2 linked regions of the Homo sapiens genome follow. The protein of the gene in region 1 interacts with the protein of each later gene in a pairwise test. Each region holds a gene or a part of one and is shown on either strand. Other genes may lie near its edges.

Region 1 (4,401 bases):
GAAATTCCCTTTGTAATAAGGGAAAAAACAAGCATTACTTCAAAACGGAATTGGAGGATCTTGTGAAATATTTCACATTATGATTTCACTGTTGGACCAAATACTGTTTTCTGATGCAGTTTTATTTTACTAAAGCAATAGACAAATATGTCTTAATTCAGTTAAGCCTCCTTTCCACACACTGAGAGCTGGTGGGTTTACAACTGGAAAGCTGACATCCACTTGGACTCCTAAGACCTATATTTGTCTATATTTTCTGTGTGGGGGTGTAAGCCCAGGTGGCATGACCTCCTCTATCCCAGACAAAAGTTTTCAAGACCATCATGACACCAGCTTCTTTGTACAAAGACCACATGTGAACACAATTCCCACTGAAGGGGGTGTGTGGTTTGGTAAGAGTGCAGCTCTAGTGTCCACAAAAGGAGAAAAGTCAGCCCAATGGTGTCACTGTATTGTAAGGTGGGACACCCGTCAGCTTAGGGTGTCTTCTGACTGATGATTCCTTCTTCCCTTTTACTGCCTTGGCACCCTGAGCTCTGCAGTCCCCCCAACCCCCTGCCATGCTGCCTGGGCCCTGTTGGCATCCCTGTGTCTGTCTGGCTCACTGAGCTGAGCACCCTGCAAGAACAGACATTCCTCATGCACCAGTGTCTCTCATGGCTCAAGAGCTTGCTTTGAATGGAGCCCACAGTCATCACTGCTGGGTTGAACTGATTTGTGCAAGCAATAGTGGGTAAACAGGTGGAGTAAATTAGGGTGCATCCCTGCCAACGACTTCAGTGCAGGCACCAAAAACAATGCTTTGAAATGATTTATTCACCTGGGAAAGTGATCACAACTTGCTGCTAATTAAAACCAACAATAGAACAGTGAGTACAATTGAAGTCCATCATTGTTATTATCATAAATATGCACCCAACAAAAAACAAACTAAAAGAAAATACACTCAAAAGCACACAGTGGGCACATTTTGTCTTTGGGTAGTGGAAGTGTAGGTAATGTCAGTGTTTGGGGTTTTTCTTTGAATTTTTAAGCTGTTTTAGAAATAAGTTTTGTTATTAGGAAAATTATTTTTAAAGAAATATACATCTGAGGGAAAAGAGAACAAAGGCATGATAAATAAGGGGTCCTTGGTTGGAGATGATGCATCCAGAACATTTTGGATAAATAAGCTACTTTGAGTTAAGGGCCTTCTCGGCCTCCTACATCAACACAGAATCTCACCCCACCCTCCTAGTAGACACTTTCCTCCCAACCCCCTATCAGCTACAAATACTGTCAGCTTACACAGCAGGCCTTATTATTATTATTATTTTTTTTTTTTGCTGACAAGTCCAAGATGGCAGTCGGAACTCTGACCCATAAAACCAGAAGGCTTAGATGAAGAACAAAAAGAAGGGAAACCAACCCTGCTTCCTTTTGCCTGTTATTAATCGCTGCAATAAAGCCATTAGAATCTACCAACATATCACCCAACTTGAAAAGAAGAGAGATTCTGAAAAATAGTCAGAAAAGAAGGGTAAATGGAAATGATGAGTCCCTCCCCTTTATGGCTATTTTAAGAAGCACACCATGTTATTCATATGGCCCGTGCTTAGCCCACTCCCTGAATTGTTTGATTTTAGTGGATATAAAAATTCTTCCTAAGGGCTTTCTTAGTTCCACTGCCAGCAGTAGTTCCCCATTTCTATTTCTCGTTAGGTCTCAACTCTTCCGTCATGAGTTCTATGTTCCCCAGGATTCCAAGAGCCCAAATCCTGCGGTGGGAGTGAAGGGGAGGCAGATGCTGGCTACTGATTGGCTCTGGGACTCAGAGTGGAGTCACTGTGGAAATCACTATTTCCAAGTTCTTTGGCAGTGGGAGGGTGGCGGGGGGGGGGAGGTGATGGAAGAACAGAAATTCCTCATACATCAGTGTCTCCCATGGCTTAGGAGCTCACTTTGAATGGAGCCCACAGTCACCACTACTGGGTTTAATTGGTTTGTGCAAGCAATAGTGGGAAGTGGGTGACTTTGTTGACAAATGCTAATGGTCACAAATCTGAAATCTTGCTTGAGTCCAAGCCCTTCTCTGGTACACTTAGTCCCAGTCTCTGGAATATTTGGTTTTGCTCATTCATCTTCTTTCTACCAGGGGAGAAGTTCATGGAAAAGACTGAAGCCCCAGAAGCCTCAGAAGCCCCAGGCCACCATTACATTCCCTCTCTATCCCAAGTGGCTGTGACTCCATGCTGTGCCAAGAGTCAGAACCTGGCTGGGAGAGCCAGGCTGCTGGCTCAGTGTGCCTGGCAGGTCACGCCTGCTTATTTTGGGTTGGCCTCCTATGGTCTGAGTCAGAACCCAGCAGAGAGTTCATGCTCCCCTGTGGAGGGAGATGTGGAGCTGACCCTCTCCAGCCTGTCCACGGAGAGGAAGGGGAGCCATTTAACCAGGTGCACAGCCACACGCCTGTGGAACAACTGCCGCAGGTACTTCCGGAACCTCTCACCAACGAAGGCGTAGATCACTGGGTTGACACAGCAGTGCGTGTAGGCGATCACCTCCGTCACTTGCACAGCCAGGTCCAAATGTCTGCTCTGCTCACACTCATGGGTGAACAGGAAGTCTTGGAAAACAGAAATAAGTATAGTCAAATTGTAGGGGGTCCAAAAGAGAAAAAAGATGATCATGATGACAAAAATCAAACGGACAGCTTTGGATTTCTTCTCATTTGGTCGTCTTAGCAGAATCTTTATAATCCCTGTGTAGCAGATGATCATGACCAACAAAGGCAATACCAGCCCAAAGAGGTTCAGTTTCAGAGCCTGAAACAGCTTCCACTCTCGTAGGCTTTCGTGAGGAAAGTGAAGGCTGCAGGTGTGGTGAGTGAATTCCCATTGGGTCTTGGAAAAGTATAAGCCTGGCATGGAAGCCAAGATGGCCAGGGCCCAAATGATGATGCTGGTGATGACACCAAAAGTGACGGTCCGTGCCCGCAAGGCAAACACGGCGTGGACGATGGCCAGGTACCTGTCAATCGTCAGCAGGATGATGAAAAAGATCTCGCTGTACAAGCCTGTGTAATAAAACCCAGAGAGGATCTTACACATGGCATCACCAAAAACCCAGTCATCCTTCAACTTGTAGTCGATCCAGAAGGGAAGCGTGAACAGGAAGAGCAGGTCAGAAATGGCCAGGTTCAGGAGGTAGATGCTGGTCATGTTTTTTAGCCTCTTGTATTGCACAAGGACCAGGACCACCAGGATGTTTCCAACCAGGCCAATGACAAATACCAAGGAGTACAGAGGGGGCAGCAGTTGGGCCCCAAAGGCCCTCTCGTTCACCTTCTGGCACGGAGTTGCATCCCCATAGTCAAACTCTGTGGTCGTGTCATAGTCCTCTGTGGTGTTTGGAGTTTCCATCCCGGCTTCTCCTACAGGTTAAAAAAAAAAAAAAGATTTGTCTTTACTCTGCTACTAAAGGCAGTGGGCACTGGACAGTAAAGACAAGGGAGAGGTAACATTTTTTCAGCCACTCCATAAATGTTTATTGAGTGCCTTCTGTGTACCATGCCCTGGGGACAAAATGGAGTGTTAGAGAGACCCAGATCCTCTCTGCCTTCTAGGAATCTTAGTCTAACAGGGAGTGGAAGCAATAAGTAAATGAGTGCACAAATCATTAATTCAATCATTTCAGCAAAGAGTTTTGTAAGGGATAAGTTCAATGGGTGGAAAGCCAGAGGGAGACCTTACCATACTATTCATAACCAACACTTCCTAAGCACCCCCATGGCCTAGGCACTGGACTTAGGGTTAAAGAGCCCTGGAGGGGTCCCATTGTTGTTCTTATTTAAGAGGTGATGAAACAGAGGTTCAGAGTGGTTAGGAAACATGTTCAAGGACACACCTCTTGTGAGAACAGACCTGGAGCTCCAACCCAGCTGTGCATCATTCTCATGCCCGGCCCTGACACCACTACGCTTTCCTGCTGCTGTCCCCGAGCAGTAGCTTTGCACTGTGGAGCCCACAGGAGGACTCTGAGAAGGAAAATGGTCCTGGCTCAGAGAAAGATACAAACAGATATTCATGGCTTTTGGTCTAAGAAGATTCTCAGCCGAGAGTGACCTAGTACCCTTGGGGCACTTGGAAATGTGTGGGCATTTGTTGTTGTTGTCACCAAAACTGGGGGATGCTACCGTCATTTGGTAGGCAGGGCCAAGGATGTCCTACAGTGCAGAGATCATTCTACCCCAAACACCAGTGGTGTTGCCATAGTGAAATCCTAGTAGGTCAACCCCATTATTTTGGAGATGAGGACACTGAGGGCACCAGAGTGGGCTGAGCCTGACCCACATTGCACAGTCCTTAGGTGGCACAGGTAGATCTAAGGTCACTTTGCAGACCTCCTGAAGGAGAGGAAAGT
Region 2 (7,298 bases), on another chromosome or scaffold:
AGACTCCGTCTCAAAAACAAACAAACAAACAAACAAACAAAAGACATAATAAATGAAGGAATATCAGGCCACAAGTCTGATTTAGTTAAAATCAGCTTTGTCACTTCTGTGTGACTGTGAACCTTAGTCTCCTCAAGTACAAAATGGGAGCAGTAACACCTATGCACTCTACTACAGAGGTGCTGAAGAGCAAACGAGGTAACAGATAAGTAAAAGTTCTTTAAGAACTGCAAATATAAATGCTTCCATTAACAGTACAATTACAAGATTGGTAAATGCTTGTAATTATTTAAATTGTTCTGTAGTACAGTTCAGTGTCAGTGGCATCCTAAATCAACTATAGGGATTGCTTTTCCCAATATCCTACCAGAAAAAACTTACAGTTGGCTGGCATTCAAAGAATAATCTTCAAATGTGGCGGCCGGTATACTAATGAAAGACTTCAAGAGTAGAATATACTCCACTTATAAAACGACACCAAATAAATATTATTAAATAGCTACATGCTATATGCAATGTTAAAATTCCCCATAATATAAGAGTCAAGAAAATAACAATGTTCCAAAATCCACTGGGCTACATTCTTATATGAAATATACATCTCCTCTACCTTCCTTTATGCCATAGCTGATAAAGACCAACAATCCACAGTTAGAATTCTAAGCTGGAAGAGCAACCTGTGAAATGTGTGATTGTGATTACAGAAATGAATAGGACTATCGTGAATAAAAAATAAACATTTTAAAATATACTTACTTGAAGGGTATGGGTACGGCTGTGGTCTGCGCCTTTTTGAAGGACAAAGGCAATCTGCCACAAATATCATACACTGTAAAAATAAACATTGTAAGAAATCTGAATGTAGAATATATGCCACAGCTAATGTAACTATTTTAAATAATCACATTTTTAAATATCTTTCTTCCTAGCACTCCAAAAATGAAATACTTACGAGTCCTAATAACAGTCCGGAAAACAGAGTTGCTAAAGCAAAAACAGTATATGATCCCCACACTGGCAATCCAAGGTCTTCAATAAAGTAGTTATGGCAAGTCTAAAATCAAAAGAAAAAAAAAAACTAAAAATCTGTTCATTTTTGTTAAAGTGATAGTGGTAAAAATGTTTAAGATAAAAATATTTTAGTCCATACCCTGATCCACATAGATAGCTGAAAGAGTGCTGACATACTACTCATCCTAAAAATAAAAGAGATGATTAAAAAACTGAGTAACATACACAGATTTGTCTATACATACTATTTTCTACTCTATAATTTCCCCAATATGACAGATTTTATTGCTGTTAATCAAGACTAGTGACACATCACTGATTTCATGCCTGTAATAAGCCTTCTTCATGAAAACTGTTTCTAAATTGACACTACCATGTGACAGCCTCATAAATAAAAATACTTGACAGTATTTTTTTCCTTTTCTCCCACTGTTTTGATGTTAATATTTTGTATTTCATCTGATGATTTCTCCAATACACTGAGTAAAGGGTTACAAGTTCCATGAAACCAGTTGGAAAAGGCAACTCTTACTCACCCTTAAAAGCCTTCAAAGCAAGACCAAAGGGAGGCTAAAGTAAGGACTGGAAACAATTGTCAAGCCAATTCTTTCCATTTAAGAACTATCCCTCTTTTTTATTGAAATTAATTAAAATTTACAAGAGCATTAGTTTGACATCTTTTAATGATATACAAAATTATTACATAGGAAATAAATGCTAAGTCATCATATAAGCAAAAATTAGTATTTTACATAATTAAATGGCCAGTTTTAAAAAGGCATGTTTCAGAAATAAGAAAGGTCTGTGAGTTCCCAATTGTAGCTGCTTGAAAATAGACTTACAAGCAACTACTTTCTTCTACTGGAAGGACAAGATTCATTTATGAGATGAGATTTCAGAGAACAAAAATCAGTTATACTTTTAGTTCGACACAGAAAGGTATTTTAATCATGTTGCTTCTGTTGTTTAAAAGCCAAGTGAGAAGAGAAACAAGGAACTGAAACATAAAGCACTGTATAGCCTCACTGTAGTCTGCAGTAATTTATTTCAGAAACAGTAGGATCCAAAATTGAGTTGGGCATGGTAGTTCAATGGGTGAGTGTTAACAGGGCTAATCTTTCTCCCATCCCCAGAATCTAGAGCATTTTTCTCTTATGTGATTACTGTCCCAACTCCCTATCCTCCAAAGGTAAGTGTGGTGAGAGGACAGGAAGAGACAGATGGCCACACAGGATCAGTCCATGGTGACCTCAGCAAAACTCACTGTTCCCAGAGGTCTCTCACATGACCAGTGAGGCCTTGTACTCCAACAGCAAAGCAGAAAGCATGCTTGCTACTTCCAATCCTTATCACTCCATAGCCAGTTGCTACGAGGAAATTCATCTACCCTCTAGATATCTATAAAGCTCAGTGCTTAGGCACACTATTACGGTCACCGTTTATACACACTATTCATATAAGAAGTTATCAGACAGGTGGAATAACCAACCAAACATAATTCAGTCGCTTGACATCAAGAGTTGAAGTTTATGTAATTAATTTAGTTGGTATCGGCAATTATTGACGGTCTCTATGGAGACAGAACATTAAAAGACAAATTGAAGTCTGGAGGTAGCATGAGTACAAGTTTGAGCCTACTCATTCAAATTATTACACTCGAGTGATAGCTTTACCCATTACACTGTGAAGACTCTTAGGGGCATTTAGTTTTTGATGATACATATGACCAAATCTAGCAAGCTAAAATATTCCTGAAAAGGTGTACAACTTACTTCTATAAAATGCCTTCTCTAACTCAAGAAGCATGAAAATATGTTTGACTTAGAAGGTCAAACTAAAAAGATCAAACATGTAGGCCGTGCATAGTGGCTCACACCTGTAATCCCAGCACTCTGGGAGGCCGAGGTGGGCAAATCACGAGGTCAGGAGATCAAGACCATCCTGGCTAACACAGTGAAACCCCGTCTCTACTAAAAATACAAAAAAATTAGCCACGTGTGGCGGTGGGCACCTGTAGTCCCAGCTACTCGGGAGGCTGAGGCAGGAGAATGGCGTGAACCCAGGAGGCAGAGCTTGCAGTGAGCCGAGATTGCGCCACTGCACTCCAGCCTGGGCGACAGAGCAAGACTCCATCTCAAAAAAAAAAAAAAAAAAAAAATCAAACATGTAATAAATGTGGATATACCTTAACAGCTCAAGAAACAAACTGAGTATGAATGCTTTACATAAAATATAATTATCTGTTCCAATTAATTATGAAATGGGTAAGAGAAAAAGCCCTCATACTTACAGAACAGAACCTGGACCAAACCATGATGAAACGGGCTCAATACTCTTCCACTCTTTATCACTTATAAAGTTTATGAAGTCCTTCTTAGTCCTTGGACCCTGATAGCGCCTAAATTCACCATCTTTACAACTAAAGAGAATCAGAATTAAATATTATCCAGCACTGAGAAATAATTTAATATTTATTTTGCTATTTTTTCACTTCACTTTACAGTCAATTCTAACATTCAAAAGCATTAGCAATGTACAAGTATTAATAGCAAATTATACTATTTACCTACTCATGACATTTTAGCCCCCAATTTAACAATGAGGTTACATTTTTTTAAATCATAAGCCTTAAAATGTAATTACTGTTATTCTTCCAAGTAATGAAACTATGAAATACAGTAAGTAGATAAATCTCAGGAAAGTACTTTTAAGCCTTATGTGTAATACACATATTAAAAGAATTATATAAAAATTATTAGAATAGTGCTTGGCACATAGTAATTATTAGCTGTTAAGCTATAACTTAAAATTTTAAGGCATTTTTCTAGTACTTTTGGCTATAATAGCATCACCTCAGACACCCTGCTTTAAATCACTGGAGGCATCTGGTATGGTGCTTCCCTTCCTCTCATTTCAGTGACTATTTAGTGAGCTTTGCAGCCTTCCTTAGATCCACCTCCTCCTTCCCATTCCCAATGTAGAAAGTTCTGTCAGAGTCACAAATGTTCTCTTGGCTCCAACATCTTTAAGTGCAAAAACTCATCAGCTCCCTACTAGGGACCTGTTAAGTAGGGTTAAGGGACCCTTTATCCACTCAGAGGTAAAAACCACGAGGAAGCCCCCCACCCCAAAACACAAAGTTTTTGTGAAGTGTCATTTGAGCTATTATTTGAAGCATAGGTAAGATTTCGACAGGCAGGAAACAGGAGAAAGGATATGGTAAACAATTTTGACTAAAAGAAAAAGGGCAGGAAATTCCAAATAAGGTCACAGGGCACTAAGAAGTGAAAAGCAAAGGGAGAGACTGAAGGGGCACGTGGGGAAAAGGACTGAATGAGAAGGGCAGGACAGAAGCACTTATGGAGACAGCGAACAGAAATTTATATAGATGTAAAGGGAGTAGGGGTGAATTTTAAAACCATAAAAAAAAGAAAAAAGGGCAAAGAAAAGCAAGCTATAAATACAAAGAATTGTCAACTTATTTTCAGTACCTCCTGGTATTTAACCTACCAGCTACATGATGTTGGGGTACACAGACTTGAGATTTCATACCCTCAATTTAGAAGATAAAGTCAAACTAATAGACCTGACACTGAAGACTACATAATCTTGCTCATTCTGTTTTATTACCCAACTGTCACCTATTACTCTACCCAAGGCTGTACAACAGCACTTTCTTAGCTACTTTTTGGACATAACATGTTCCTGTTAATGACTGTTTATGAGATTGTCCTCACAATAAAATGCTTACGCTCCACTCTTAAAATTCTACTTCCAAGGTTTCATTTAAACCCCATATTCTCTGGGAACCAATCCAGGTAACTGTGATTTCTCCTTTATCCAATTACCTACAGGACTCACCACTACTTTGGATGCATAATGACTTAACACGCTGAACAGGATCACACCATTTCACAAGAACATCACTTTCCAAAACAACTGTAAATCTTTGAGAACAGAGACTGTTTCACACATCACTCAACTACCTAAAGGCACCTAGGATAACACTAAGCAAAACAAGCCCTCTAAAATACCTGCTGAATATAATGAGATTACCTCAGCTCTTCCAGCATGATCCAAGCCAGAGGCCTACTACTTCTGATTACACTATAATGCATCCTTCTCCATAATTTAGAATCTTCAAATACTTACTGATAAATAGTAGGAAGAGCAGTTATGATAAACCGTCCACTCAGTCCTACAAATAAAGAACACACAGCAGGTTTTACATAGGCCAATCACTGACTACTTAAAACGTGACTTTGAATTATTTAAATACATACTAATAGGAAAGAATATGAAATTATACCTAATAGTTGAGCTTCGTAATACATAATTTAAAAATGAATTATGTACTTAAAGCAACTTTAAAAAACACAATACTGCACATTATCTCAGTTAAAAAGTATGTAGAACTAGAGTACTGAATACATTTTTAAATAAAAACACTTCAACATTTATATCACTGTCAAAATTAAGACTACTAGTAATAAGAGCACCTTGTGCTCATGGGAGAGCACAAGGTAATAGGGTCTTAGATCTAAAATCCAATGGAATTGTACTTGACATTCAACAAACAAAGGCAGTTTATGGTGCTGCTAAAAATGGAAAATACTATGAATCTTTCATGAGACAGGCAAAAATAATAGCAGCTAACATTTATTGTTAGCCATGTGTCAAGCACTGATATTACAGAGAATTGACCTGTGCCTCAGTTTTCTTATCTGTGAAATGGGGACATTACATATTTCACGGGGTTGTATAAGGATTAAATAATAAACACAAGATATTTGGAAGAGTGCTATAATAGGCAAGCGCTCGATAAATATTACCTATTATTACCATTTGGGATGGGACAGCCAAGAATCCAAGGGTAGTGTGACTACCGAGAACGGTAAGATGAGATTGGTCTGTGGAAGGAACCTCCTTAAGGGCAGGACCTGCCACTTGTCCAGGGACCAAGTCAGGAGTGCACTTGACCTCACAACCACGAGGGCTTTATATTTAGAAGCCCACATCCTCAAATCATAGGTACTAAATTTAAAACTCAATTTCAGAGATTCAGGTCTTCTTTTGTCAGGGAACGTGACCTTGACTCCAGAAAAACACTCAACCACATGCTCCTTATTCTGAAGCCTGGTATGGATGCAAATGTGGCTTGGCCAATGTTCACCTGAACCACAGTGTCCTAGGACTTCTCAAAGGCATCTTACATACTAGTCTGGGGCCTGGGATGCAAAGAACAACAAATCAGAGGCAGTTATGTGGGCAAGAATAAAAAGAGGGTAATGTCTTCAAGAACCCTTAAAGCAACACATTCAAGAAATGAGGTGTATACACAACCAGGGAATCTCCATTTTGCAACCATTGCACACTGAGCCCCCAGCAGGGAGGTGGACAAGTCAGGTTAACTAGCTGCAGACTGTTAGGTTTTCAAAACCTAAAGAAAGGTAGAATTAAGACTATGCAATGTAGAAAAAAGGATAAATATATCAACCCAAACAGCAAAGAAACAAAACTAACCAAAGACTTACAGTACCTGGCTGCTCTGTGACATCTACTTTCGCAATATTAACCTCAAGATCTTCTCCCCATTCAGCAAAACTTTCCCATTCCGGTTGAAGATTTTGACAAGCAGGGCACCACGGGGCATAACTAAGAAATACAGATTTTTTTTTAAAAAAAGTTAAGCACTTTAGTATGACCATTTATCTTGGGATAAAAAATTTAAATGTATAATTTATGAAGAATATTTCATATGAAAACACTGAAGATGATAAGGTGGTTAATTTTATGCAGATGAAAAACTTTTAAGGGTAGATCTAACAATCCGGAAATCAAGAATGATGAACTGATGATGCTAATCAAATAAAATTCTGAGAATAAGACACAGGATTTTTTCACATGCAAAACAGCTCTTTAGAAAACTTTTGCATTTCTCTATTAACGGTGTGGCCACCAGAAAGCTCAAGACCAAAGTTAGAGCTTACCAATTTTAATAATTTATAATGCAGAGTCACAAATGCAAGGTGTTGGAAAAACAGAAGTGTCCTGGGCTGTGGTGAATAAGAAAGCACATATTCCATCTTAAAGTGGCAACCATTATTAAGTAGGATTGCCACTAAGGATGCTGGCACACTAAGGCTGGCTATTCATATTTAAAAGAAGATGGAGAGCTGCATTTTTATATGAGAATGTTACCTCAAAAAATAACCCACACACAAATACTAAGCAGGCCAAACAAAACTCTTGGCCAGTTAGGTCATCCTGTTTCCAAGACCTTGGAT

Evidence for each region.
Region 2: the proteins of CCR1 (region 1) and TMX1 interact in binary tests that used the Homo sapiens proteins (3 or more experiments, as listed by UniProt).

What each region holds. Positions count from the first base shown.
Region 1 is NC_000003.12:46,200,913-46,205,313, forward strand, and holds the end of CCR1 (C-C chemokine receptor type 1), read right to left. Parts: intron 3,413-4,401; 5' UTR 3,402-3,412; coding exon 2,334-3,401; 3' UTR 799-2,333; downstream 1-798. UniProt on the Homo sapiens protein: Chemokine receptor that plays a crucial role in regulating immune cell migration, inflammation, and immune responses.
Region 2 is NC_000014.9:51,243,224-51,250,521, reverse strand, and holds part of TMX1 (thioredoxin-related transmembrane protein 1 precursor), read right to left. Parts: intron 6,667-7,298; coding exon 6,551-6,666; intron 6,433-6,550; exon of another isoform or gene 6,298-6,432; intron 5,210-6,297; coding exon 5,164-5,209; intron 3,431-5,163; coding exon 3,302-3,430; intron 1,197-3,301; coding exon 1,151-1,196; intron 1,055-1,150; coding exon 953-1,054; intron 830-952; coding exon 757-829; intron 1-756. UniProt on the Homo sapiens protein: Thiredoxin domain-containing protein that participates in various redox reactions through the reversible oxidation of its active center dithiol to a disulfide and catalyze dithiol-disulfide exchange reactions.